Homo sapiens: one gene and its partner. The protein of the gene in region 1 binds, or shares a complex with, the protein of each later gene. Links are inferred from orthologs where the notes say so. Each region holds a gene or a part of one and is shown in the gene's direction. Other genes may lie near its edges. The genes, in order: HTR2C and DLG4.

The links.
Region 2: the proteins of HTR2C (region 1) and DLG4 are in contact, whole or in part, in an NMR structure (PDB 2MHO), measured with the Rattus norvegicus proteins. The link is inferred for Homo sapiens from one-to-one orthologs. Residues at the interface, in NP_036897.2 of Rattus norvegicus: Val452, Val453, Ser454, Glu455, Arg456, Ile457, Ser459, Val460; in NP_062567.1 of Rattus norvegicus: Gly74, Leu75, Phe77, Ser78, Ile79, Ala80, Asn85, Pro86, His87, Ile88, Thr97, Lys98, His130, Val134, Leu137, Lys138.

The regions. Positions count from the first base shown.
Region 1 is NC_000023.11:114,576,401-114,590,950, forward strand, and holds the start of HTR2C (5-hydroxytryptamine receptor 2C isoform a precursor), read left to right. Parts: upstream 1-7,685; 5' UTR 7,686-8,259; intron 8,260-13,189; exon of another isoform or gene 13,190-13,585; intron 13,586-14,550. UniProt on the Homo sapiens protein: G-protein coupled receptor for 5-hydroxytryptamine (serotonin).
Region 2 is NC_000017.11:7,206,950-7,222,255, reverse strand, and holds the start of DLG4 (disks large homolog 4), read left to right. Parts: upstream 1-4,628; 5' UTR 4,629-5,082; coding exon of another isoform or gene 5,083-5,108; coding exon 5,109-5,138; intron 5,139-14,016; coding exon 14,017-14,082; intron 14,083-14,984; exon of another isoform or gene 14,985-15,301; coding exon of another isoform or gene 15,302-15,306. Other genes in the region: ACADVL (very long-chain specific acyl-CoA dehydrogenase, mitochondrial), read right to left, coding at 1-79, 175-304, 574-718, 1,198-1,332, 1,426-1,490, 1,580-1,652, 1,727-1,792, 2,059-2,134 and 2 more. UniProt on the Homo sapiens protein: Postsynaptic scaffolding protein that plays a critical role in synaptogenesis and synaptic plasticity by providing a platform for the postsynaptic clustering of crucial synaptic proteins.

The DNA.
Region 1 (14,550 bases):
TACTAATTTGGAATTTGGTCGCTAAATCACCTGGTGTTCATTTCTTCCTAGAGCAAAGCTTTCTTAAATAAATTTATTGATCAGCTTTGTGAAAGATTATATACATATTATTGGTTCTTCTACAAATTTCCAAACCATATGCACCAACATAATTTTTTGAACCTTCAAATTTAAAAGATTTCTAGCCATGGTTACACTGTGAAGTTATAAATAATACAGATTACACAGCATGTAATTGAATGCTGAGTTCAGAAGTTCTAACTTAGATCATTAATCCTTCCATTCTTCTGGAAGAGAGTGAGGGAGACTATACTCATTCTACTTTTACTATATTAATACAGTTAATAGCCAGATTGGTGACATGTACTTCCATGGAAATACTATTTTTCTCGCTTCAGTTTTTGAAATATTGCCTTAAATATTATCTTTGTTGTGCACAAGCTTCCAGGCAAACTTACATTTTGAGTTTCTACTAGAGCAGACACATAAGAGGATAGAACAAATGGAAGAAAACTCTCACCTACTCCAGGGTAAATTGTCACTGTCAAGAATGACATAAGCAAGACACTGGTTTTTGTTTTGGTTGTTCCTCCAGAGGGTTTTAAGGTCATGTGCTTTCACTTGATTCAACAAAATATTCGGATCATAAAATGTTAATCACCAGACACAATTCTCAATGACATAGACTTTTGCCAAAAATTGAAAACAATGTGGCATATTCTGAAGGCAATTTCAAAAGAGATGTTAAGAAATATTTTGACGAATCATAGCGTCACTGAAATGTCTAGTCTTTGAAAGGCAAACCATTTTTAGATGTATGTTTTACTGTAATGTTCTGAATACCACATTACTTGATATCACAGACTTTAAAAAAATTAAAAACTCTCAAAATATCAGGACTACTGATATAACTCAACCATTATACTTTGTAATCAAACCAGACGATAGTAATACTGCTCCCACTGTGTGGCTTGGCTTGAAAGAATATGAGAGGTACTTCTCTACATTTTTTCACCTCTGTCCTTGTATCTTTGGAAGTTCAGCCAAGTTATATTGACAATAAGGTTTTTTTGAGGTCATAATGAAATAAAAAATGCATAGACAAAATTAACAATGATAGACTAAACTATCTAGTCCCTGATTTATCAGTGCTTTTCTTGATTATTGAGTATGACACTCTAAAGGATAAAGGCTTATTTTTGAATCTTATCTTGGTAGATGAAGAATGCTGGTCAAATTGGAAGACCAACAAAGTTGTGTTCTCTGGCAAATCTTGCCCCACAGCTTTGCTCTATCACCAAGTAAGAATTCATTACTCTCCCTTACAAGATCACCTATTAAAAGTTTACTATCATTTTCCTACTAATGACTAGAAGATGCATAAACAGTAAAAATAATTTTGATTCAAAAATCAAAAGGCCAGAAAATAAACTTTTACTCAGGTACTTCTACTGCAGGGCTGCCATTAGATGACAATAGGCATCTAGTCATTACTATATTGGCTTTTGCTTCAAATTAAGCTCCACTTGGAGAAAATGAAAGATTTCTATACTTGTCTATAAATAAAATGTGTATATATGGTAAGAAAATGTTTATTTACCATATTATTTTTCTTTAGTTTTTGATGACAGGGAATTTGCTATCACTTGTTTTTAAAACATCATCTTAAATGAACTTTTGTTGTTTCAGCCTTTGAAATGTGTAGAGACTTGGCCTTCAAATTTGTTGGTGAGGAAAAAGGAAAATTGTTAAGAAGCATACTGAATACGTATCACTTTCGCATCATCTTAATGTCAGAAAACTGTAAGTCTAATCTTCGTAAGTCGGGGACCATCTGTAGCATTCTAGACTTGTAAAGAGTGATAGTATACTAACATGATAATAAGCTTCCCAGAGATTATTTTCCACCGAAGTCAGTAGCTATCAAGTGCAACAGGCTCAACAAAAGTGTCTTGTGACTTGGTAGGAGGCTGCTTCTTTCTTATGACAAAGCTGAATCTATATGGCCAGTCTGCAGTACATAACTTTTTTTGTCTCTGTTTTTAAGAAAGTTCAATATCTATTTATGTCATAAAATTAGATTAAGATAGCATTTATTCATTGTGCAAGATTTTGGATTGGAAAGAGCTTTAAATGTCATTCATTAGCCACGTGTTCTTCTCTTTCCTCACACATAGTTCTCCTTTGTAACATCCCCACCAAGAGATTAACCTCTGTAGCATTGAACATCTCAAGAGTGGAGAACTAACTACCTCCTGAAACAACTTATGCCATCTTTGGATAGTTCTGAATGCTATAAAATCCTCCTCTAGAGCCAGAAACTGTGGATTCATTAAATTCAGTTTTATTCTCTTCAGAGTTTAATGTTTATAGTTTCATTCAGTTCACAAATATTTATTGAATGCTTAGTTTGTGTCAGACATTGTGCAAGACACTGAGGTAACAGATACAAATAAGACATGAATAACAAACTTGGGAAATAAATTAAATCCACTTTCCTTAAGAAAATCCCTTGAATATTTGAAGTCAGCTAGCATGTAACCCAAGAGTCATGTCTTCCAGATGATACAAACCCATCTAACATGATTCCAGCACTCTACTGATCTGAACATTCTTGTGAATGAATTCCCATCATTCTGATAAATGAATTCCAATCTTCATTCTTAAAGTATGTGCCTGAAAATACCGTATATAGCCCAACTGCATTTTGACTCTTTTTATGAAAGTTGCAAAAGCTCAATATAAAATTATGTTTCCCAGCAACCAGATCACACTGAAGGCTTGTTGATCTTGATGTCAACTAAAATCAATAAGTATTTTTTCACCAAATGTTCCCAGCTTCGGTGACCTAAATTTGTGCAGAGAAGTTTGATACTCAAATTGAGCATCTCACATTTATTACTATTTATTACTATTAAGTTTCATCTTGGTCGGTTCAAACTGTCATGATCTTTTTGCATGAAGGGCCAATTTGGTAAAACATCTTTTACATTTGTATTCAGGTCATTGAAAAATTCGAGTTTTAGAAGTCCAGCCCTTCTTGACCATTCATCTTAACCTCTTGCATAACAACAATGGTAGTTATCATTGTTGCTTATATTCTTTGTGCGAAGTATTAGGATAGTTGTGGAAAAAAGGAGAAGAGAAGCTTATGGTTAAATGCTTCCTCCTGAGATCCTTATAATTTGGTTGAGGGAATAGTTCTTACAAAAAGAAAAGAAGGGATTCGGTAGCAATGAGTGATGTTGCGACTCATTTGAAATAATGTAATGATATTGATTTACAGACCAGAGAAACCAAGCCCATTACTTTACTTTAGACATAACTCCGAAACAAGGAAATGTTTGGTTGCATGGTTATAGCTCTAATTATTACAGAAATGGGAAGTAGAAATCATAATGGTCTGAAAGAGTCAGAGTAAGATATATGGGTAGCAAGACTACTGGGCTTCAGCGACCAGTAGTCTTGAGCTAAGAATGAACAAGAAATCACTGTAGTCCTGGACTTTCAATCTCAGTTTAATTTAAATAAAAGGTCCTAATTGCCATCTTTGTTATCCTAAACTGGAAGAGTGAAATGCATGCCTATAATACAAAATGCATTCGTCATAACACGAATGCGCTCCAAGACAACACATATTTCCCTACAGAACTGATGTCAAAGTAGCTCCTAGCTCTTTCTCCTTTTTGAGGCTACAAGATTCCATTCCCAATCCCTATTCAAACTTGCATGCATGTTGCTATTTTTTCAAACATATACTTGGTTACTGGAAACTACACAAAATACATATTGTATTACTAGAAGGATGTTAGATAAAATTAATTAAATACGGTTTTTTGCATAAAAGAAATAAGCACAGATTTTTAATTGTGATATACCTTTTTTTTTCCTTAGACGTGGCAGAAATATGTGATGGGAACTTCCAACTCCCCCTCCCAAAAGGCTTCCAGTCTTTTTCTCTTCCCTTCAATGGGAACTTCCAACTCCCCCTCCCAAAAGGCTTCCAGTATTTTTCTCTTCTCTTCAATGAGAGCGTCAGAGAACCAGTGTTGATTGTTGTTTTTCTCTAAAACAGAAGATCTTTCCAAACAGAAGTTTCACTTACAGAGACTGACACGATCAGAGACTGCCCCCTGCCTTCCTACACAGCACACAGAGTTCTACTGCGTTATTTTTTTATTAAAAATAATCCTACCAACTTTAAAAAGACTGTGTATAATAAGCTATCTATGTCTAAGATTTTTTTCTAAGTCTATGACCATGTTTGAGGCACAGTAAGGGAAAAGTCAATTGTGTTCGATGTCATAAAAGTTTATTTCTAGGTGTGGCATGCCTCAACGATGGACATTATGGATCTGATGCTGGGTTTTTACGATTAAGTAGTAATAGCGAATGCTGAAAATATAATTTGATACAATTGTATTACTACCAAAAACATATCTGGCTATGATAATTTGCTTTAAAACTGAAAAAATATGGGTAGAAGTATTATCAAAATTCCTTGCATTTATGTCCGGTGGTAAATAAGAAAAAAAAAAAAACTCCCGGTAGAATTCTTGTGTAGCTTCTTTTGATCTGTGAAAATACCTGCCTTCGAGAATTTTGCTAGAATCCTGTCACTCATTTTTTAAACCTGTCTGTCATCCTTTAGGTGTGTTAAAATAGGGCTCTCTGGTCAAGAGGGGGAAATAATAATGAGTAGAGAAGTAAACTTTCTAGTCAGTTTATTTTTTTAAAAAGTTCCCAAAGTTTCAAATGATGAGGAACTTTTTCCTACGTAGTAACAATCTTCTTTAATTCTTTCCCGAATTTCTAAATCAGTAGTTTTGGAAACATATGTATTTGTAGTAGGAGGAAATCGCCCCGGTTCGAAAGTTGTAAAAACAAGTCCACAGCCTTAGAAACCGGGAAATATTTGGAAACCGTGTTCCGGGGGGCACTGGGGATTTTAATCAAACCTGAGGAATTCACTGTAAATAACTCCTCTTTCCAGGGACAATTTCCATACACCTGAGGAACGGAAAGGAAAGCAGTGAAAACCCTGGGCTGACTCCCCAGGCCTCGTTAGGCAGGGGTTCCAGAAAACCTCTCTGGCAATGACAGAGCGACAGAAAGCGCCAGCATGTGCTTGTTTTGAGTTTGCTTCCCCAGTCCTAAAGTGCGCCCTAAATTTCTCCTTACACTAAATTCTCTGGTCTGGTGTTGCCAAAATCTCCAAAGTCCGTCGGACCTTGCAGCGCTCTGCCGAGCCGCAGCCTAGAGAACCTGAAGAGGCAGTACGCGCCGCAAATGCCAAGAAAGCAGAGCCTTCGGTCCCGGCGGAACCCGGTACCCCGAGCCTCGCCGCGGACCGCTCCGGCTCAGTCTTACAGGCTCTGGGCCGCTCGGCGAGCGCCGCTCAAAGGCTAACGTGCCTGCTTGTTTCTACCCGACCTCCGAAGCCCAGACGTGCTTCAGCAAGCCGCGTGGCTAGCAAACTTTCTCTCTGCTGCTGCGGGAACCTTCCCAACGACCACGTGGGTTTCACCCCTGGTCGCTCTCGGCACTTTTGCCTTTCACAAGGAGAAGGAGAGAACAGCCTTTAGAGCGAAATATATAATAATAAAAACTATTATTACCATCATCCTCATCCTCATAATTGCTATTATCATGGTCAATTTCTCCAAGCCGGTTCCCCCGGGAGCCGGGGAGCGAGAACAGGTTTTGGCGGATGCTAACTTCCACTCGCTGCTCGGCAGATCCATTTTGGCTTAGCAAAAATATCACAGGGATTTATATTTACATTTTTTGAAGTAATATAAATGTCTCAGCCTCTGACAAAATAAATACGAGTCCCGCCAGAAAAGGCAAGACTAAGCATTCCACATTCATAGAGTAAGGGGACACTTGGGGAGTTTTTAAAGATGAGTGCTTAATTATTTAAAGAGAAGACATACGTTTTCTCTTCCATATTTATAAATTACTGTTCGCTACCAAAGCATTTCTAAAGATGCGAGCGTTGTGCAGTCGGTGGACTTGGCAGCGCTGTCGCAGCCACCTGTGCGGCATCATACAGCAGCATTCAACAGATGCTTCAAGAAAACTGCGATGGGTTTTTGCTTTTCGAAACAGAACTTGGGTGCCGACAGTATGTTCACTGCCAAATTAAATTTCAAAGCCTGAATTCAGTGGCGATGGAGGGAATCAGAGGATTCCCAAAATGCCCCTTTTGGAATAGACTGGACAGCTCCTTTCACAAATATGGAAACAGAGGCACAGAGAGAAATGACTGTTCCTAGGGCATCCAGAATAAGGAAGGGGCCTGACCCTTATCATTGCTTCCACTTCCTTCTCCATCTCTAACTTTTGGGGCTACTGAGGCAAACTTCGGCCTTCAGAATAGCCGGCAGCTCCCACCCCTTTTGCGTTCTGCCGGGTTAGGTCCTCCAAGCCTCTCTCTGTACGGCCTCTCTGTAGCCTCTTCTATACACTCGCTGCGCTGCCGTCCGGTCCTAAGTAGCCAAACCGGAGGCTCGATCTTTTGCTTCGGTCCAGCTACCTCCGACAGGCGGGGAGCCAATCTCCACTTTTCCCACCCCGGTCCTCGGTACAGGGCCGAGAAACCTCGGCCGCGACCCGAGACCACCACCCCCGCTCGCCCCTTCGTTCCCTCTTAGGAGAGATCTGCTTCTGTCCCCATTCTCCGTGGGATCATCTCCATTACTCAGCTTGGTTTTGGTGCCTCTGAGCCAAGGGGGCCCCGTTCACCCTTCTCTGCGCTGCCGCCAGGACACCGCAGGCACCTGCCCGGTTGCGCCTGGGAGCCTGTGAAAAAGAGCTCTGCCTGACCGGTTAGAGCTCTGCCTGACCGGTTGCAGCTCGGCATCCCAGCAGTTGCCAAAAGAGAGCCTTTGTGGTTCACCTCTTGCTGCCTTGACCTTGCATTGACAGCACCCCTCCCTCCCCCACAACGACTGGGCAACCGACTGGCTGTGGGCCCAAGGCCCTGTGCCAGAGAGATATGTTCACCCCCTTGGAAACCCGTAAGAGCTGCCCTCAAGGTGTCTTTCTAATGAGGCCTGTGGGGTCAAGAAAGGAACTAAACTGTGCCTTCCCGGGGCTCGAAGGCCAAGAGCTTTTCTTTCTCCTTTGGGGTTAGGGAAAGGATGGGGAGACAAGGATGGGGAAGTGGGCCTTATAACAGGATTGTGGCCTTTGCGCACTCACCAAATGTTTGACCCTGTGAGTGCCTCAGTTGCTACTGTTGGAGGAATGGGCAAGAGTCGGAACAGAGACCCTTGAAGGGAGTTTCAAAGCTTGATGAAATTTGCAAGACTTGAGAATGCTGTTTGTTGAAATGAAATGTACAGGGGTGTGTGTGTGTGTGTGTGTGTGTGTTTGGGGAGGGGTATGCTATGAATCTTTGAGGGTACATTCTTGAGAAAGCCTTCCCTCTCTCTCTATCCGGTGCCATGGCTGATCCTGGTTCCCCCTACTCTCTAGGCCTTGTGAATCAGATTAATCATCACCCCCACCCCCATCTCCACCATGGGGTCTCGCGCCCCCTGCCAGCAGGCTCCAGATGCACTAAGAGACCGGTCCAAACAGGCCCGGGGGCCACGTAATGCTGAGTGCTGATTGGCTGCTCTTGGCTCCTCCCCTCATCCCGCTTTTGGCCCAAGAGCGTGGTGCAGATTCACCCGCGCGAGGTAGGCGCTCTGGTGCTTGCCGAGGACGCTTCCTTCCTCAGATGCACCGATCTTCCCGATACTGCCTTTGGAGCGGCTAGATTGCTAGCCTTGGCTGCTCCATTGGCCTGCCTTGCCCCTTACCTGCCGATTGCATATGAACTCTTCTTCTGTCTGTACATCGTTGTCGTCGGAGTCGTCGCGATCGTCGTGGCGCTCGTGTGATGGCCTTCGTCCGTTTAGAGTAGTGTAGTTAGTTAGGGGCCAACGAAGAAGAAAGAAGACGCGATTAGTGCAGAGATGCTGGAGGTGGTCAGTTACTAAGCTAGAGTAAGATAGCGGAGCGAAAAGAGCCAAACCTAGCCGGGGGGCGCACGGTCACCCAAAGGAGGTCGACTCGCCGGCGCTTCCTATCGCGCCGAGCTCCCTCCATTCCTCTCCCTCCGCCGAGGCGCGAGGTTGCGGCGCGCAGCGCAGCGCAGCTCAGCGCACCGACTGCCGCGGGCTCCGCTGGGCGATTGCAGCCGAGTCCGTTTCTCGTCTAGCTGCCGCCGCGGCGACCGCTGCCTGGTCTTCCTCCCGGACGCTAGTGGTAAGTTGGAGCCCCGGGCGGCATTGCTAGCCGAGACCCCAACGATTTAGGCGGGGGATGGGGTGGGGAGCGGGGACAGGTCCCGGATGGCTGCAGCCTGCAGGACCGCACTGGCCCTAGCGGAGGTTGGGGGGAGGGACTCTGAACGCGCAAATCGCGAGGAGACTGAGTCTCTGGAAGAAGAGAGGAGCTTAGGTTCCACGGAAGGAGCATAGAAGTCTCTAAGGGGATTGGGAGCGGGGGCTCGAGATGAAGACGCTGGGCGGAGGCGGGGGTCTAGAGAACCTGGCGCGGGGGAAGCCGAGACAGAAACGGAAGGCGGGGGTGGGGTCTCAAGAAGTGAGGAGTGGGAGGAGAGAAAGGAGGGAAACTGAACGCAATGTCGCTGAGTAGAGGGTCGGGCTGCGGAAGATGCAACTGAGTTGCAGGACCGACTACAATTTTAAGAAATCCGACAGCAGGCAAGTGGGAGGGGGCGCAAGGTTTGGGACAGTGTGTGCAGAGGGGGAACCAAGGATCCTTTATTATGTTCTCATTGAAAAGCGACCCTAATTTTTCTGGCGGGTCTCAGCGAACATCCGTAACTCTGGGGAGATAACACACTGCGGATCTGTGTTTGGTCTAACAGCTGTTAGCTGAATTTGAACAGCGCTGCTGGTGATCACGTAAGCTTAAGAGGAGAGGATAAAGGCATCCAGTGAACCTTTTTTTAAATAATTAATTAGCTTATCTAAGTCATTTGGTTACTGTTCTATATTTTGAAAAGGATTGCGAAAAAGTCTCCAGCGCTGCCTCTTATTCCTGTACTCAGTTTTACCTGACAAGCAGTCTTTACAGCGTTCCTCGGAATTGCTAAACATGAGAACAGGTTGCCGTTCCTGATGTCACATAAAGTTCGTCATTGCAAAACGTGTCTGTGTGTCTGTTTCTTTTCTGCGCCATGCCCTTTGCCTTTTGCTTCCTGTTGGGTAGTATGCGACTTGAGGTGACAAACACTTGCATTGTGTTTGAGAACCCTGTATTTTAAGCAACAGAGCTCCCCAACTCATAATTCAGCGAGTGACATTCGGCAGTTAAAAGATTTGGTCTGGAATCACTGCCAGTACCGCGCAGCTTCTTCATTAATATTACCAGTATAAGTCCCATCCAAGGAAGCCTCTGATTGCTGAGCCACTAAGTGCATATGCCCCTTACCTCATACCTTTTAGGCAGGCTAACCGAGGGACGCTCATATATGGTTGAGCTAAGATGATTTGGGGGGCGGGGGGTGAGGAAATGCGGCGCACTGAGTAACCTCTGAGCTCCCCAGTTTGCAGACAATTGCGACCTCACATACACGGTAATGAAAAAAGATATCTGGGCTCCAGAGTTTAAATTTTTCATGAAGAAGTTTACGTACATATCAGCCATTCTGACAATCAAAATATGAGTGCAATAGAAACAAGGTGTTACTGTGTAGTTGGCTACATATGTGTAGAGACAATGACAAAGGCCAACTGACATGCCCCACAGAAAATGATATCTACCGTGATCATTGCATCTCTTTTGCAGTACTGAAATCATACTGAATATTGTCTGTTCTGAAGAGTATAATCTCCTTAGCACCTGGCTGTTTGGGAATCATCTACAATGCCCCCCCATTCCACCCCACAGGTGGGGGGAAATAAATAATTTTGTCCATATTTTGGGGAGGTAGGTTATAGAATATTTAATTATATTTTTCATTCCTTAAATAAATTCTCCTGATCCTCCTGGGGAGGGAAGAAAATATTTGTTTCATCAACATGATTTCTTTCCTAATAGCGTCTATCATCTACAGCAACAAGCCCAACGCAAGTCCTGAAATTCGGAAGGTGGATAAGGCTTGTTGATTGCAATGTCAAGGTAGGATTTGGGGTGCTTTAGCAAAAATGACGGTGTTTTTCTATCTGCATTATCTAGAGAGGGTTATTAACCCTTTCTATGCTTTCTTGAGGGGTTTATCTCCATCTAGAGGTGTCATGGATGACAGTGATGACTTTTTCAGATAATGTAACAGGCTTTTGTGCAGTATGAATTCATCAGAAAAGAGGTGAGAACTGATATTTCTGGGAACCTCCTGGATGCCAGACGTGGATCCAGGACTATTACATATATATACATAAAATATATATTATTTCATATAGTCTTCATAGCAAGTCTATGAATGACGGAGATATTATTATCCTCCATTTTATCGGTGCCATTAGATTTTTCCCCTCAATTTTTCAAGGTATTCTCAAAAGTTAATTTAAGGCAAGAGAATAAGAAATATTTATTTGTGCTTCCAAGTCTACTTGGGAAGAGCAATAAAAGTAAAATCTAAAAAGCCTAACATTCTAATAGATTCATCCAACATTATAATTGAGTCAAGCCTCAATAATTTTACTGTTCCATGTATTTCCTTCAAGGAAACGTCATCCCTCTCCAGCTAAGGGAAACACAAAAATTAAAACAAAATTTGGGGGAGAGATTATAGTAACCAACATTAAATATCCTCAGCTATTCTTATTAAATTGTTCAAGGCCTGAGATTGAAGGAGGTTGCAGTTTGCTGAGCCTGCTGAAAGATAAATTAATTCCCAGGTTTTAATGGCTCCTGAAGCTCCAGACTATTTGTCCAGTATTATTAAGGAGCATCTTACCACCTCACTTTCATAGCAATGGAATACCTCACAAAAGGATGATGTACGTGTACTGAGATTATTTTAGTAAAGCATCTGATACAGCTTAGTATTGTCTAGTGGAAGAACTGCTAAATTATGTTCCTCTAGCTGCCTGGTAGCCATGAGCAAACTAGGAAAACTTCATCATAAATTGAAGTTAATAATATATTATTGTGATATTTTATGTCAGTATCATATATAACCCCACCTGATTGTTGTGAAACAGATGGGTATTAAGCACTTTGAAAATTTTAAATTATTGCACTAAGCAACATTTATTATTTATTTGTTAGCATTCTAGGCTACCTATGTCATTTCATCTACATATTGTACTGTTGAACCTCAAAAAGAAATCATCAATCTCCAGTCTAATGTGTGCTCAAGTTATGGATCTCTCCAACACTGCCATTCTTCAAGACATTTTAAGAAGGCTTTTTCATATACTGAGAACATTGCTGCAAGACAGTCTAGTCATCTCCATTCTAGACAAACAACATTGAAAACAACCAAGTGGTTAAGCTGCATCATCATTTGGCAAGTCATTAGCAGATTTAATACTAATGCTCACCTGCAACAACTCTTTGCTAATCACTTCTGACATTTTAATGCACAAACGACATAGTGAAATCAGGATTTCAAATAAGATATACACAAGATGGAATTTTAATTCTGTTTTTGTCTCCTACCTGGCATCTCTACTTCAACCTCGCTATTCATTCCTCTTCTCAGCTGTGGCTAAGACAGTGTCATCTGCAGTTTCCTAAAATAGTTGCGTATTATAGCATTGTACATATAGCTGGCATTTGAAACAGTCATTCTTCTTAATTATGGTTAACCTTATGCATAGATGACCACTTACATGGTCTAATTTGAGAAGCACTCGAAAGGCCTTCTGGTCCCTAAATTAGTAGCCTTCATGGTTTTCCATATAACTTGAAATTCTACATTCAGGAATTTCCCTCTTTCATCTTAGTCACTGTCTCCTTTAAATACAAGTACACCTTTGGGTAACATACTGTTATTATTACCTATTAAGAACTATGCATAAATTTATTGAAAGCTATTAGAAAGCCTTTAGAACTGCATTGTCCAGTGCAACAGCCACCATATATGGGTATTTAAATTCAGAGTTGAATTAGCGTTAATGGCAAGGTGTGGGGTTGAGCTCAATGTAAAAATAAAAAGTGAAAACTGAACACCACTGAAACCAAAGATAATGTCAACTAATATCTAGACAAGGATAGCAATGAATGAATTGGCTAGGATTTCCTTTACTTTTTCATAAAACATGATGTCTTCTTTAAACTAATCAGTAAACGCTTACGAATAAATGTCAGTGTTCAAATCTTTTGCAAGTGTATTTTAAACTTACGTATCTCCCATTTTATCTCAGTAATCAAGACTCACTGAATACTCTTCAATTATAGCTTCCTGTAATCAAAGTAGTAAGACTTGCCCAAATTAGCAAGTAATTATTCTTAAGAGGAGAGGTATAAAAGATGGTAACAGTGGCCACTATTTATTGACATTTACCATGCACTACACAGTTCTAAGAGGTTTACAGGTATATAACCATACAAGCCTGATGACTACCCCATGAGAAGGTACTACTATTATCCAGTTTGCAGTTAGGGAAACTGAGGCATACAAAGAGGTTAATCTGTTCAAACTGAATGAACAAAACCAAGCTTGAAACCAGGCAGTTTTATTCCAGAGGCCGTGGTGTTAAACAACAAACTATTGCCTCTGTTTAGAAATTGGCTAATTTTTCTTTCATACTGTAACAACTAGTCTTTTAACAGAACAAATTTGCATGTAAATGTGAGGATATTAATGGACAATGTCCATTAATCCTCGATATGCTGCTTGGCAAGGCAATGAGACAGACATGCAACATTTCATCTAGAGATTCACCTACCAATAAAGAAGTAGAGCAAATGAGAATGTACTGTTAATGCTGAGAGACTGAGGGACAAGAAGCTGAGTGAAGCTCAGGGGAGTTACAGAGATAATACAAAGACAGAAATGAAGTCAGGGAAATAATGCTATTGTATGTAGAGATGACTGGACAGGCAGATGTTACTACTGTGAGTTGGACCCACAGGTTTCTACTACATGTAACACCACAACAAAGGCCATTCATATTTGTCATTTATATAATATTGCCTACTTGAAATTCAAGCAGTAAAATAGAAGCTCTGAAGGTCTAAGACCGACTGACAGAAGGATCAGTAAAAATCGTTTATCTCTTTCCGTACCGATAGTGCTCCCGAAAACATGGTGAATGTTCCTAAAACTCACAAGACTTAAAGAAGTGTGGCTAGCACCAACCCCACAAAACGACACAGTACAAGAAGGGCAAAGATTCTCTGTATGCCCAGGGAAAGCAGCATTATGACAGGCAGCGCAGTGAATATGGTGGGCAGACTAAGCCAATTTTTCGGAAAAAAGCTAAAACTACAAAGAATATTGTGCTAAGGCTTGAGTGCACTGATCCCAACTGCAAATCTAAGAGAATGCTGCCATTAAAAGATGCAAGCATTTTGAACTGGGAAGAGATAAGAAGAGAAAGGTCCAAGTGATCCATTTCTAAGTGTCATCTTTTGTTTTATTATGAAGACAATAAAATCTTGAGTTTGTGTTAAAAATTATTTATCATATATCAGGAAGGTTTCAAGTCTTGTCTGATCCCATTTGCCATGTATTTCCTTTTCATACTAGAGTCAGGAAAAGTAATTTGATAGCTATGACTTGGAAAATAGGTGCTATAAAAAGTAACTGCCAGTTTTTTAGTTTACTGATCTGAGCCCAGGTAGAAAAACCATATCTGAGTACAATACTTAGACTAAAGTTATTTCAGGGTAGAAAGACCATACTTGGAAAAATTCTAAATATGATTAAAGTCTTTTTAAAAGTAGGTTTTTAAAAATTCAAAAACCAAACCAATTACTTCCATTTCTTACTTCCATTTTAAATTGACAAAAAACCTGATCCGTGATTAAAAAAGAATTTATTGCTAGAAAGATTGGAGAAGTCCAGTACTGTGGTATGTAGCTTTCTCTCCCAAATGTATCTATATTCTGTCTGATCTTCAAGGTCCGTTTCAAGCCCCACCTCTTGCAGGAAGCTTTTGTTGACTAGCCCACATATATGATAAGTGCCTTGCCCATAGTAGGTAATCAGTTAACATATCTTGATTGATTGTATTGTATTCCAATGGTTAAAGTAAAGGTGAAAGAAGATGAAGGAAGAGCTAAAATAGAATTTTTAGCACATCTGCACAATAATATTCAAGAATTCAAGGCATCTAACAGAATAACAGTTTCCCCTGAAATGATTTCAGGTAATTTCTCTGAACATATTTTAGGGCAATAAAAATATTATAAATCTTCTTAAATTAGTTTAGCTAAAGCTTAGCCCTACCACACTGTTTTATTTTCCATTTCACAGTGAAATACACCATTATATATACATATATGAGAGAGAGACCATTTCATTGACCACATGCATGGCTATAGAATTCTCTTTTTATTAGCAAACTGAGTTCTGCACCCATTTTGCGGTATGGGTTGATGGCTCAGAAAGAAGCGCAAGTTTTCTTTTTAAAA
Region 2 (15,306 bases), on another chromosome or scaffold:
CTCCTTCACGGCTCCTGTGGCTGGATCTGTAACTGGTGTCTTGGCAAAGACCGTGAAGATGTCTGCTAGGCCCCCATTACTGTGGAAGAATGGGATATTCAGGGCGTGGAGGACGGGGAGCAGTGGGGCCTGGAATTGGGCGGAGGAGAAGGGGAGAAATGGGAGGCAGGTTGCCTGATCCAAAGCTTGCTTCCATTGAGGGTATAGTATTTTCCACAGGGGCTGGGCACAGCAGAGGTTCGGATGGAGGCTGCATCTGACCCGCTTGAGGGCTCGGTTAGACAGAAAGCGGCCACAGTCTCCCCTGTTGGGGAGAGAGCTACTTTACCCCAAGTTCTGATGAGCTTCAAAGTCCCCTCGGCCCACTTCCCCATCCCTCCAGCAGGCAGTTCCCCCTTAACACCTGGGAGTATCCAGTTCTTTTGCATGTCCCAACCAGCACACTGTGATGCCTCCCCAAAACCTTCCCCCAACTGAAATGCTCAGCCATCTGATAATCTAAGTGCCAACTGGCCTAATCTGTGCCAAGCCCAGTGTGCCCCCCAATCCCTGGCTCTCCTAGGGTTGCCTCACCAGATGCCAGCTTGGGGAGGTATTTTTCTTTCTGGGCCTTTGTGCCAAAGAGCAGGATGCCTTTGAAACCGATGCTCTGATGGGCCCCCAGGGTAATGCCCACGCCAAGGTCATGCATGCCCACGATCTCCACCAAACGGGCGTACTGGAGGGGAAGCAGGAATCTGGGGTTGTCACTGGCTGCAGGGGGACCTGACCTTAACAGGAGAGTGTGGGCAACAGGGCAGTTCCTGACCTAGGGCAGTTCCTGACCTAGGGCAGTGCCTGACCTGGGCCATCCCCAGTGTGTAGAAAAGAAGTGGGGTGTGCAAAGGGCACAGCAGAGAATGCTGGTCTGTCTTAGGTCTAGGTAGGAGGGTGACTTGCTACTAGTCAGTCTATTGTTAGGCAATCCCCAACTTAGAGATTTGTAAGGACTTGGGAACCAGGGTGAGGCCCATGGCTCAGGCCTAGGGGACTGCATGTAAATTGTGTTATGTTTGGACAGTTAACATCCATCCCACAGGCACCCAGGGCAGGTGCTTAGAAGAGACCTTAGCCCTAGTCTCTAGGTCTATGGCAAAAGAGCTGAGTCTGCCAAGCTGGGGTATGGCATACTGGGATGTGGCGATAGGGCGCCCTCACCTGGGTGTTGCAAAGGCCCACACCACCCAGCTCACTGGGCACTTGCAGACCAAAGGCCCCCAGCTCCTTGAGGCCCTGCCAAGTGGTCTCCTCCACCATCTCCAGAGCGTCATTCTTGGCGGGATCGTTCACTTCCTGGGGAAGGCACAGGATCCCACATCCAGGCTCCTTTTGAGCTTAACATCTCCAAACACCTCACCAGGGACCAAGCCCCGAGTCATTCCTTACCTCGAAGAAACGGGACACAGGCTCCACCAGCTCTTTAAGAAACTGTGTCTGCTCTTCGTTGAGCACTGCAGAGGGTGGGGGACAGGCTGGTCAGGCCAGGCTGGCAGGGGAAACCACCCTGGCCCCACCCAGCTCTGATTATCCCTTCCCTTACCGGACGGGTATGGGAACACCTGATCTGTGGTGAGCTGGCCTTTGAACATTCCCACAGCAAAGGACTTAGATTCCTGGGCAGAGAGAGGCAAATTTCAGGGCTCTGGTTGGGTCTGGCTAAGGTCCACCTGGCCTCGGGGCTACCTACCGCCTTGGCCGGTTTTTTCCTGGTCAGAGCGTCAGAGGGGTGGGAATCTGACTTGTCCAGAGCCAGCTGGGAAAAGAGACGGTTAGCAAGTTCAGGGAAGGGACTTCCGCTGTGTCAAGGGGAGAACAGGCGAGAGCCGCGCGGGGAGGCGGCGCGAAGCGGTGACCTTTCCCCTAGTTTCGCCCTAGGGCACCCTGGCTTGCCCTTTCCCCTACTTTCGGCGACTGAGCAGTAGGCAGGTACCTGGCACCAAGAGGGAGATCCCTGCCGATGGCGGGCGCCGAAGCGGACCGCCGCTCCCACACCCCCTTGCCAAGGCTGCGGTGACTTACCTGAGCGGCACCCCCGGCATAGGGCCGCCGGGCAGGGCCGGGCCGGGGCTGCCCCAGGAGCGCCGTGAGCCGCGAGCTGTGGGGAGTGGGGGTTCAGTGCCGGCCCGGTGCCCAGGGCCGCTGCCCACCGTCCCTCTTGTCACACACAGACCTTCCGCCCCCGAGCCTCAGCAGCTGCCGCCCCAAGCTCGCGGCCATCCGAGCCGCCTGCATCTCCGAATCTCTCCGGGCGCCGCTGGCTCGAGCTCTGACCCAGCTCTGGCGTCCTGCACGCCCACGTCCTGGCGCCCCTAACCCTGACTCATCGTCCACAGTGCACCGGGCGGCGGACGGTTGCGGGCCCCGGGGCATGCTGGGAGCTGTAGTTCCCTGGAGCCCGGCCCTGCGTTCCGCTGACTTAGAGGGATCTCCAAGCGTCCCTCGTCTCCCCCAAACTCCTTAATCCCGCCCGTCCGACCTAGAGTCTAGTCCTCCGACGGGGTGATGGGATAGGATGGGACAGAAGAGGAAGGGGCTTAAGTCACTGCAGCCAGAGGGATGGAGGTGGACTGAAGGGAGGGCTTCTCCGGTGGGGTTAGAAGGGAAAAGTAGGGAAAGAGAAGTGTAAGGTAGATGGCAGAGGCAGAGACATGGAAAGACAGACTCTAGGGTTCCTGATGAAATCTATCTCGGCCAACACAAAAGGGAGGGTACAGTGGTGGGGGGCACCCAAGCTAGGGTGTGAGTACCCTAAGTGTATTCTTCTGAGATGTAGGCCATTCACTAACTCTTGGAACAGCTACAGTTTCACAGTAGGAAGACCCCCCCAGATTCACTGCCCCTCCCTTAGTAAAGCCTCTGAGACCTTCCTGAACATTCCCTTCTGTCTTTGCCCTCTGTTCCTTCCAGAGACCATGTGCCCAGGCAGATGGATTCCTCCCGGGCCTGAGAGGAACTGCAGGAATTCTCCTGCCTCTTACCCGTAAAACCCCAACTTCTCTAGCCCTAGGGCAGGAAGTCCCAAACAATTTCTACCCCTTTTTCTGCAATTCTCATTGGGGTGAGAGGAGGCCCAGGAGGAGAGAGAGCTGGGCTCAGCTTCTTTTTGAGCTGCTGGAGCCCTCTGTGAGGAGGCCCTCTTTGCTGGCTTCTCAGGAGAGCGTGGCTAGGTTCTGCCTGCCTATGGGAAGAGGGGGCCAGGGTGTGTGGAGCAAGATGGTGGCGGTGCTGGTGCCTTGGGACCTGGGGGAATGGGACAGCTGGTCGGCTCAGAGACGGCCTACTTTACTCACAGCTGGAATTTAGTGGGGAGAAGCAGCTCAACTCCAATCCTGGAGGATTAGGGAGATTAAAGTGAGAGAAGAGAGAGATGTCCCAGAGACCAAGAGGTGAAAAACAGGGCTCCTTGTGGAGGGGAGGTCTGGGAGCGAAGTGGGGGGCTGGGGCTCGGAGATCCTTCTCCCCAAATCTTTCCGTAGGGGCTGGGGTGAAGGGCACAGTCTGGGGAGATGAAGTGACAGTGTGTTCATCTTCCTGTGTTGGCATCTTCCCTGTCCCAATTCTCCTTGCATCTCACTAGCTCCCAGGTCAGCCCTCTGGCTCCTGGCACCCCCACTGCTGCGGTGGGCACCCCCACTCCTCACAGTGCTGCATAGCGACCTCTTCCAGGCCTTGCTGGGTGAGTAGCCCGTTTTCTGAGGGACCTGGGCCTCCAAGGGCCATTACTGAACTTCGGGGGCTGTTTGGGAGCCCAGAGATCATTTGGTCCAAGCTGGAGCACCATGCAGGGTCCTGCCTATGGTGTCCTCCATGAGTGTGGACCAGCCTTGGCTGAAAGGGCTCCTCCCTTGCCAGCCAGCCAGCAGCGGTGATGACAGGGGTGATGTGCCTGGAGAGGCCTGGGGTGGGGAGGTAACTCAGTTCTGTTCCTGTGACAGACATCCTGGACTATTATGAGGCTTCCCTCTCAGAGAGTCAGGTAAGGAGGTGGGGGCGAGCGCCTAACTTCCTGAGGGGCAGGCAGGGCTGGAGGGGTGAGCCAAATATCACTAATATTACCTGGAATCTTGGGGGCCCTGCTGACAAAAGCCTGAGTCAGTGGCCCAGGGACTTGGGGCACCGAGAATGCACTCTCTGTGGTCCTGTACCCACTCTCCCTTTCTTCCTCGTTTTCTTTGGCTGCCCCAGTTTCAGGCACTAAAGAGTCTAGGGCTTAACTTTTTAGGTTTCCCCCTGAGAAACCTGAGGGAGAACTAGGCCCCCAGGGATTGCCTCCTTCAGCTCCTCCCTCACACCCGACCCCCTACCGCCTGCCGAGAGGCCTCCCTCCCGTATTCAAATAACCGTGGGTGCTCCCAGCCCAACTATAGATGCTTCCTTCTCTAAGAAATGAAATCCAGCCTCATCGTCTTTGCTGTCATCGCTGGTGGCTGGCCAGGTCTCCATGTTTGCCTCAGGGGCCTCTGTGCTTCTGCTTCTATCTCCTTTCCCATTATCCGGGTTCCTGCCAGCACAGAAGGAGTTAACTCTGCCAAGGCACCCCCCCCATTCTGGCTCCTAGCTCCCTCCCTCCCTCCCCCTGCTTCCTCTCTCCTCCTCTCTCCCCTTCCCTCTTCGGCTCCACGGCTCCCTCGGCCGCTGCCGTTTCCAACCCCCCCACCCCACTCCCCCGCCACGGCCCCTAGCCCCTGGCCGTTTGGCAAGACCCCCCCCTACCCCGGGGCTCCCCGAAATCCAGTTCCCCTCCCCCACCCCAGCTCATGCCCCAGCCCCCGAACTCCGGGGCTGCCAGCCCCCGGTGCCCCCGCCCCTCCTGAGAATCGGGGTGTGCTCCCCAAGCCCCCTCCCCTCCACTGGGGAGCCCCTTTTAGGGCCCCCTTCCCCTCCCTCCCACGCTCCCCTCCCCTTCCCTTCTCCAACCCCCTCCTTCCCCTCTCACCCCTCCCCCCATCCTGGCCCCCCCTGCAAAAGTGGGGTGCGGAGGGGGGAGGGGTGAGAACCCACGGAGGGGAGGAACGAAACTCCGATGAAGTCAGAGCCCCTTACCCGCCGCCGCGGCCAGGCCCCCCAACATGGACTGTCTCTGTATAGTGACAACCAAGGTAAGCATGATGGGGGGGCTATAAACTGGGGGGAGGGTATGAGTTTGTGGGGAGGGGTTAGTAGGCCTTATCTGGGACTGGCGCCCCTGGAGTGGCAGCATCAGAAGTAAGATGTATTTGGGGGTCTTAATTTAGTTTTGGGGTTCACATCTGAGAAAATGCAGGATTTGGCCACAGGTGCCCCCTGGAGTGATCCCTTTGTACCTGTAGGGATATGGAAAATTTAGGATATTCCATGGTTCGGGGGGCCTGGCGGGTTTGGGGGTTCATCAGCGCTGTTTGAGGGAGACTTATTTAAGGAGAAGCCTGGCTCATAAGGGAGTCCTGCTGGTGTATGTGGGAAGGTGGGCTATGTTGGGGGGTTCCTCTTTCCTCCCCAGGGAAAAGCTGGCTTCCAAGGGCCTTGTCCAGTTTTGGGGGGCTCCTGGCATGGGGTAAAGGTTATTGGTTGTGAGTGCCTGACTGATCTGGGGGTGTCAGCTGGCAGGGAAGGGGTGGGCCTTCAGACTCTAGAACAAGCATCTCGTGGTGGCTGCATTTAGGGATGCTCTCTCAATTTGAGGGAACTGTTAATTTAGGGTTCAGTCATATAGAATGGAGGTAGTTGGAAGTTGTCAGAGGGCTGGGGCCCTGGCATGGGATCACCTGAGGGAATGGACCAGGTGAGGCAAGGATTTGGGGGTACTCCCATAGGAGGCAGAAGATTGCAGCAGCCGAGCTTGCCAGCCCCTGAGGAGGAGGATGAGAGGCTTAGGGAGAGAGGGGATTTGAGGAGGGGGACCGGGTGGGTGGTGCACAATTTGGGGGTGGCCCAAAGGCAGGTGCCCAATATCCCCATCTCCTCCCACACTGTATCTAGCCCTGATCAAGAGAGAGGGAGAAGAGCAGATGTGGGGACTGTTCCAGATACCCCTGACGCTTGGGATCAAGGTGGGGGAGGACACCTGGATTTAAGGGTCCCTGAGGGCTTATGACCGAAGTTACTGAGGTTACTGGGGTGAAAAGGTGTAGGAGGAGGGCAGGGCTGGCAGCGATGGGGATCTGTGCAAGAGTGTCCCTCTGGTTGGAGCCTGGCAAAGGCAGGAGATCTCGGATGGAGCACAGGCGAGCTCCTGGTGGGATGCAGATACCTAGGCTCTCCTTGGAGACTCTGGGACTGGAGAGCTGGATGCCTGGTGTGTGGAGGGAGGCTTGGGCGGGTGGCAGGCAGCTGGGGGCTGGGGGGTGGGACAGGAAGTGGGGGCCGGGGGAGGCGGGGTCCGGGTGAGTCACAGGCTGGGGAGGGGGTTATATTTAGTGGGAACTGCAGCTTTTCATGGGAGGGAGCTGAGGACACACATGTTCCCTGCCACAAACTCACACATGTGTGTACACATGCATTGTGCACGTGTGAGGATGGTTGGAAGAGATTGGGGGCTGAGGACCTTTAGATCTGGAGCCCCCACCCTCTCTCCACCAGGGCGACTTTCTTGTCCTTCATTCTGTGGGTTTCGGGCTTTCTCCCAGGCTGCCTCTTCCCCACATCCCCTGTAGTTTCGGTGGATTTTTATGCCTCAGTTTCTCTGGCCTGGTTTCCTCTGCTCCCGCTGTCTCCTGCCCTTAGGCCTGTCACTTGGCCTTAGGCTCCATGGCTGTGGTCCCCTGCATTCCAGGTGTAAATAGAAAGCCCGCTGGAATGTGTGGGCTCTGCTTCCAACACGTGAACACACAAATGGGAGCGAGGGTGAGGGGCTTGCCAGCAGGCAGCTATTCTGGGTGGGTGGGTGGCCTTATTCATTACCCACTCCAGACTCCTACTTCTTCCATGGAGCCCAGGGTTGAGCATCCCTGAAGGAAGGAGGCTTACAGAGCAGATCATGCATTTGGGGTTTACAGAGGCGTGGAGACCCAGGCTTGCCACATTCCTTGGCTGGAAAACTTGTCAGCCTCGGTATGGTGGGGACTCCAACTCCCATAAGGCCCCGAGGCACCAGATCCCTCAATGTTAGAGGGTTGCTGCCCATGGCGCTGTTGGGAGTTGTGGTTCATCTCTATCCAGGGCAGCCAGCGGAGGGTAGCCCAAGAGGAGCCTGCAGGGGGCACATGGCTCCTGCTTCCCCAAATGCTGGATGGGGTAGGGAGTGCTCAGGCTTTGCGGTCGTTGAGCTCCCCAGCTCTGCCTGAGTCTTCCATCTTTCATTGCCTATATTTAGACTCCTGCCGCAGTAATTTAAGGAACATTTATTGAAAGCCTACTGCGTGCTAGGCCCTGTGTTGTGTGCAAACTCCACTCTACAGCGATCACTTTGTCTTTCTTGGTGCCTTTATCTCTGCCAGAATCTCTCGTCTCTGAGCATCTCTTTCTCCCACTCCGCCCCCGTCCCTCCCCCTTTCCCCGCGCTGCTGCCGCCGTTGCCATGGTAACCGGCGACGACTGAAGCTGCGTGGCGGACTGGAGGGCCGGGCGAGGGTGGCGGAAGGCGGAGCAGAACAAGTGGGGGTGGGGATACAGTGGGGGAAAGACTGAGGCTATTTGCCAGAGCCCCAGGAGCGAAGCGGTTAAACCCTCCGGGTGGTCCTTATTGGGCAAAGCCGAGATGCCGGGGGCGGGGCAGTGTGGCCGACGGCCTCATTCATTGGCCGTCAGGGGCGTGGCGGAGGGACAGTGTGGGCGAGGCAGGGGGAGCGAACGGGCGGGAAGTGGACGGAGGCGTGGCCTCCCGGGCAGGTGGGTGGGGTCTGGCTTACTCTATCGAGGGAGGCAGCAACCTTCGGAAAGGGGAGGAACCTTGGGGCTGGGTTACCTGACCGAAATGAGGGCGGGGCTGACCTGGGATGGGCGTGGCGTGGCCCCCCGTGCGTAAAGGAGACAGGGTTTGAGGAGCTATTGTCCAAGTAACTTCAGGGCGCGGGGGTCTTTGGAAAGGAGAATCCGGGGGTTGGGAAGTCTGACGTCTCAATTTTCCTAAGATGGAGGTCTGTTCAGATTTCATCAGAGCACCCCTCCTACCTCAGCTCTGTGTTCCCAGGAGACGGTTGCTAGGCGACGGCAAAGTCCTTGATTGCTGCGTTGCCAGGCAACAGAGAAACGGAAAATGGAGGGAAAAGGGAAATGGGGGATGGGGAAGGGTCTTTATGGGCCATGGCGCCCACTGGTGGATAAGCAGGGCCTGCAGGTTTTCTATTCTAGAAGGAAATTTGAGTCCAGCCCCTTCCGCACTGACTCCTTGGATCCTCTGGTGATCCAAGCCTTCCTACCAGATATGAAACTAGGACATTGGGGGTCATCTTGGGGGCGCATGTAACAGATGCCGATCAACGGGGTCAATCTCGCTTGGGTGAGATTCTAGGGAAGTCGTCATTTCTACCATGTATGGGCATTTTATAGAAGTCAGCCGATTTGAGGAGACCCCTCACTGGGTTTTAAGAGCTGGAAGGGTGGGCGTTCAATGGGAGAATATTTGGAAGAGAGGCTTTCAGGTTAAGTTGTTTGGGAGAAAATGGAAATCTCTGAAGAGACCTGAAGGAGGCGGTTGGGAGTGTTCTGGACGATTTGTGGGTCATTGCAGATTGCCGGCCGTATCTTTGGTGTGTATTTTTTGAGGCCTGAGTGTGGAGAAGATATATTTGGGAGCAATCTTCCGACAAAGTTGGAATTCAGAATCGTGGAGGGGATGTTCTGGGCAGACAGAAAAGGGTGTAATCTATGAACCTCAGGGGTAAAGAAAAGGAGAGGAGGTGCCGGGTGCGGTGGCTCACACCTGTAATCCCAGCACTTTGGGAGCCCGAGGCGCGCGGATCATGTGAGGTCACGAGTTCGAGACCAGCCTGGCCAACATGGCGATACCCCGTCTCTACTAAAAATACAAAAAAATTAGCCGGGCGTAGTGGCGGGCGCCTGTAATGCCAGATATCCGGGAGGTTGAGGTAGGAGAATCACTCGAACCCGGGAGCCGGATGTTGCAGTAAGCCGAGATCGCGCCATTGCACTCCAGCATGAGCAACAGAGCGAGAATCTGTCTCAAAAAAAAAAAAAAAAAAAAGAAAGAAAGAAAGAAAAGAAAAGGAAAAGGAAAATACTTTTAATTAATTAATTATTAATTTTTGAGACCGAGTCTCACTCTGTCGCCTAGGCTAGAGTGCAGTGGCACGATCTCGGCTCACTGCAATCTCTGCTGCCCAGATTCAAGCCATCCTCCTGCCTCAGCCTCCCTAGTAGCTAGGATTACAGGCGCCTGCCACCGCGCCCGGCTAATTTTTGTAGTTTTAGTAGAGATGGGGTTTCACCATCTTGGCCAGGCTGGTCTGGAACGCCTGACCTCATGATCCAACCGCCTCGGCCTCCCAAAGTGCTGGGATTACAGGTGTGAGCCACCGTGCCAGGCCAAAATTTTTTTTTTTAGAGATGGGATCTCACTATGTTGCCCAAGCTGGTGTTGGGCACCTGGCCTCCAGCGATCTTCCCGTCTACATTTCTTTTTATAAGAGTTTTGGAAAAAATTGACGAGATTGCTATTTAATTTGGAGGGTCTGCTTTAAAGTAGATTAAATATTTCCTGAAATTGGGTTCTGGTGTGGATTTGGAGACTGGCATATTAGGAAGTCATGAGTATCTTATTAGATTCGGGGGTTTGGACAGGGGATCCCCAACAAATTAGAGGACTTGTTATTTGGATGTTTATATTAGAGCAAGAGTAATATTTGCACTAATTGCAACATCCCTGTTAGTGGATTGGGAGATAGATGTGATATAGAAAGGGATGATTTAGCATATATTAATTTGGGGGGCCAACAAGGCTCTGTGGTTCCTTAAACTCTTGAAGAAACATGGGCTGCCTATCAGGTGGGGCTGGACTGCAGGGGAGAACTATGCTGGTTAGAGTAGGAGATGCCTTGGAATCTGAGGAGATGCTATCCACAGCACCAATCTTGCGGGGGTTTGGTGGGAGAGGCAGTGTAGATCCCTTGGGGGTTCTTGTGAGAGAAGTGCTGTTTGTTTCCCTGGACTCTGGGAGGCCAGTAGTGACGAGATGTCCAGTGAGGTTTTGGAATGGTTTGGGGTCTCGCGATGTTGGGGTTGGGGGATTAGATGGGATGGAATAAGGGGTCCCTGAGAACTAGAGAGATAAACTGGTAAATTTAAGTCTGTCTTTAATTGTAGAGGGGTCGGAATAGAAGTATACTGTGGAAAGTGAAGTTCACAGAGAAACAGCGTGAACCAGGGAAGTTGGTGGCTAAGAGGGTCTCCCCTCACCCCTCTCTCCCAACGTGACGCTCTTCCTTACTGCGCAGGCGCCGTCACCCCCCCCCCCCCCCCGCCGCAGCCTCCAGTTGCCGCGGCCGCCGCAGCCCCCGCCCCTCTGCCCCTCCCCCTCCCCCAACCCCCGGGACCCTTGATATCCCACCTACCCCCTTCCCTCAGTCCCCCTCCCCTTCTCCATGTCGGCTCGGAACAGATTCGCCTCCATGTGTCTCTGCGTGGTACGTGCCGCGGTATGGGCTCCGGCCCGCTCCCCCTTCCCGGACCCCCGCAAATATCAGGGTGCAAGCTTCAAGCGCTGTCGCTCTTCCTTCTGCTTGGTGCGGGGTCTCTGGGTTGCAACTTCTCGTGGACAGGCGCCGTGGGTCGCCCCTCTTATCATTCACTTTGACTCACACCCCTATGTTTTGGGGGTGCAAGCCTCAGTTCCAGGTCATTCTGTGCAACTGGGGCTCTGGTGAGGAGGGGGCCAAAGGGGAAGGAACAACAGCGACTCCGTCCGTGTCCCCCATTCCCCAGGCCTTTTACTTGTTTTAAGCCCTAATATATTGGGGGTGCAGATATGTCCCAGTAGCATCTGAGTTGTCTGGGTTAGGGCCCTGAGTCCCAGTAGGATAAAGGATGGGGGGGGTCCTCCTTTCCCGTCCTGCTTTAGTTGCCCTGTAATCCAAGACTGAGAGGTGCTGATCCCCCACCGCCCCAGCCCCCCAGTCTGCAGTTTCAGAATTACTCTCCCCCGCCCCCACCCCCACCCCTCCCGACGTTTCTCCCCGCCCCCCTACATGTACGTCGAAAATTTCCAGAGACTGAACCTAGTCCCTAACCTCTTCCAGCCACATTCTGGAAACCCTGGCACCCATTTCTTGTTCCCCATTTTCTCCATGTTGCCTCCCAATCCTGAGGAGCCTTTTCTTCAGTGCCAGACACCACCCTCCCTCCATGGGGGTGGGGCAGGGAGAGGTATTGGGGGCTCGCTGAGATAAAAGTTTACCTTCATTTCCTCCCTAGAATAAATGATGAAATGGCCCTCCTCATGTTTCCATTTTCTTTGGGTGCACGCTGACATTTCCTCCTCAGATTCAGGAATTTTCTCTCTGAGGTGGAGTGAAGATGGAGAGGCACTGGACTCAAACCCTCCCCCAGACTCCAAAACTTGGAGCTTTGGTCCTAATTTACCTTGCAGGGAATTGGAGGCCTTGTGAAGGAAGAGTGGATAGCGGAGAGCGGCTTCCACCCCTTCCCCCAGGTCTCAATTCTGGGGCTTGCCCCTCAGCTTGTGCACTGCCCAGGTAGAAGACCACCTTCTCAGGATGTGGAATGAACAGTCTCTGTTGGTTCATAGAACTCCTTTATTCAAGACAGCTCAGCCTTGGAGGAGGGCTATTTTGTGTGTTCTCCTATTTTCCTTCTCTACTTTTTGTGCCCATCGGATTGAAATCTGGAGTTCAGGATTCTCTCCAAGTCTGTGGCCCAGAGAATAGACTCAATCTTGCTGAGCCCGTTTTCCTTCTTTAAGACTCTTTAAATGTATCAGGGTGCTTCTTGATTTGAGTTGTCTCTGTGTTCTGGGTTTGAGAGTTTTCGTGCTGACAGGACCACTTCCCTTCTCCCATTCTCTTACTGTACCCTTACTCTACAGCCAAAGTTGTGTTATATTCTCAGCCTTGATTCATCATCTTTAACATTTTCAGAATCCTACTCAAGGATTGGCCATTGACCTTGATAAGCTTCCTCCCATTTGATCTCGCAGCTGCTGCCCTCTAAGTATTAGGGCACTCTCAGCCTCTCAGAAACTTTTGGGAGGGAAATTCTGCTCGCCCTCTCTCTTTTTTGTTTTGGAGATGGAGTCTCACTCTGTCGCCAGGCTAGAGTGCAGTGGCATGATCTCGGCTCACTGCAACCTCCGCTTCCCAGGTTCAAGCAATTCTCCTGCCTCAGCCTCCCATGTAGCTAGGATTACAGCCATGTGCCACCACGCCCAGCTAATTTTTGTATTTTTAGTAGAGATGGGATTTCACCATGTTGGCCAGGCTGGTCTCTGACCTCAGGTGATGTACCCACCTCGGCATTATAAGCATCAGCCACTGCTCCTGGCCTCTCTCTCTTTTTGAGACAGGGTCTTACTCTGTTGCCCAGGCTGGAGTGCGGTGGCGTGATCATGGCTCACTGCAGCCTCCACCTCTTGGGCTCAAGCAATCCTCCCACCTCAGCCTCCTTAGCAGTTGGGACTACAGGTGTGCACCACCATGCCTGGCTAATTTTTGTATTTTTTGTAGACAGGGTTTCACTGTGTTGCCCAGGCTGGTCTCCAACTCCAGCTCCTGGGCTCAAGCTGTCTGCCTGCCTCAGCCTCCCAAAGTGCTGGGATTGCCGTGCCTTCTCTTTTTACCCATGTGTACTGGGCGGTGCATTCTGTCTTCTTCAGTTCCTGAGGGATCCCTGCGTATGATACCTTCCCCTTCCTGAACCTGGAGCTTGGAGGGTCAGTCTCTGTGGAGGCCCGTTCCAGAGGAGAGGAGCAGGCGAGGGCAGAGGCGGACACGGAAGGACCCAGGCAGAAACGCTGTCTTCTTCTGCTGTCTCCATCTGCCCTTTTCCTCCTTCTCTGGCCCCCAGTTAATCTCATTTTACTGTTGTCCCTATTAAGCTAGCACAGGAGGCCCTTGGGATGGCAGCTGATTAACTGGGCAGGGAGTCAGGGGTCATGTTGGGCCTTTCACCCCAAAAGAGCAGAGGGAGACCAGAAATTCACTCTGAGGCTCAGCATGCTACCCTCCTCCCCAACCAGGGAGGCTGGCACCCATTCTTGCCCCTGTCCTGAGCCCTGCTGTCTCTGTTCTTCCCCTTCCTCCCCCAGCCCATGCCCTTATAGCATAACCGGATTAGCTGGCTGGGCTGTGGGCTGTTGCAGGGGTAGGGCCAGACTCCCGGGGCCCCTCTGTTGACTGCTTGGAAACCAGCAAGGGCAGTGAACTGGACAGGCTTAGCCTTGTCCTGTCTCGGGGGCTGATACCAAGTACCTTCTGGTGGAAGGGGTGACTTCAGTCCTTGCCTAAGGAGTGCAAGGTAAAGGAGAGCCAATCACCTGTGGGGTAGAGGCTGCAATGGGGAGACTGAGGCCATGGAGGTGGGGCGCGGGGAGGATGCCATGCAGAGTAGGAGCAGCCAGAGGGGTAGGGGAGGGGAGGCTAGAACAAGAGTGAGTCTGAGATGGTGAGAGAAGCAAGGAAGTTGGGGACTGGAGGCAGAGAATGGAGATGTGAGTGTCGGGGCTAGAGCTCTGAGAAGCTGGAGGGACTCGAAGATGAAGGTGGTGGGGAAAGGGGTGAAGACACAGATGCCAGAGGGGCTATGCCCACCAGAAGGCCAGTGTCCCAGGATGTGAGGAGTAGGAGTTGGGGGATGGGATTGGGACCTGGGGATTGATGAGAGGTGCTGAGGCCCTGGCGGGAGAGGGGGCTGTTGGGAGAGTGGAGAGAGGGGAGCCAATGGGCTAGAGGAGAGGGAGGGGGAGGAGCTGGTCAGGCCCCAGGGCCTTCCGCACTGCACTGGCTGGGGGAAGAGGCGGCGGCCAGGGCGGCCAGCCTGGAGCCTGAGGCACCGGGCTGGCCCCAGTGACACCTCCGTCCCCATCCCCAGAAATACCGCTACCAAGATGAAGACACGCCCCCTCTGGAGCACAGCCCGGCCCACCTCCCCAACCAGGTAAACGCCCCCGAGCTGGTGCACGTGGCGGAGAGGAACTTGTCCCACCTCGAGGCTGGCCACGGGGTCGTGGGCCACGCCCACCTCTCCCCCTTCAAGGTAGGAGACCCTGGTGGCCCCCTCCCCAGTGCGGCCCTCGGAGCCTCGGAGCTGCAGCAATCCCTAAGGGCCGGTAGGGTGAGAGAGAGCCGTGGGGAGGGGGATGCTGGGACTGGGGGCGGGGGTTTGGGGCTTGGGCTCCTGGGGTCTGGGGGAGGGGGCGTTTGTGGGGCTGGAAACACCTTGGTCCCACAGAGGAGAAACAGGCCAGGCCAATGGGAGTGGATGTAAAGCCTAAAGCAAGAATGTGTGTGTGCGCGCGTGCCTGTGCGCGTGTGCTGTGTGTGTGCCTGTGCGTGTGTGCATGCATGCGTGCCTGTGTGTGTGCTGTGTGTGTGTGTGCGTGCGTGCGCCGTTTGTGTGCCTGTGCGTGTGCTGTATGCGTGTGTGTTGAGGTGTGTGCATCCCCCAAGAGGCCCCCACGCCTGGGACCTCTTCATTCCTTCACACCCCCAACCTCCATTTCCATTTTCTGTGTCCAGAGCTCTGTTCCAAGCGCCTGCTGCCCTCATTTGCTCTTGTCCCTTCCCCGCCTCCTCCCCCTACCTCCGCCTCTGGGCCTGGCTCGCCCTGTCCCCAAGTCTCCAGCTCTTTCCATCTGTCTGGCCTGAGACTTCACATGGTGGGGCCTTGCTGCCTCGTCCCCTGCCCCAGCTTTGCTCCACTCCTGAGTTCTCTTCCCCCTCTGCAGCCTTTCCTCCCTGCTGGCTGGCTGGCTGGCTGGCTCTTGATGCTGTCTCTCTCTTCCTCCCACGCATTCTCCTCTCCCTCTCCCTGATCCCCAGCCCAGGCCGCTGGGGCCTGATCAGTCCTTTCCCTCATCAGTCCTCTCCCTCCATCAGCCAGCTCCCCTTTCCCATGTTCCCTCTTGCCTATTCATCTTCACCTTCCCTCTTTTCCTCCTCCCCTCTCTCATCCTCTTGGGTTCTCACCTCTGCCATATCTTCTTTCTATCCCCCTCTGCCCCCTCCATCATCCCCCACCACCTGTTTCCCTTTCTCCTCTCTGCTCACAGCGTCCTCCTCTCTCCAGTCCCGGGAGGCCTGGTTTCTGGGACCTTCCATTCTCCAGTCCACTTTCCATCTTCCCCTTCCTCCATCTCCTCTTCTGGGGACACAGGATGGG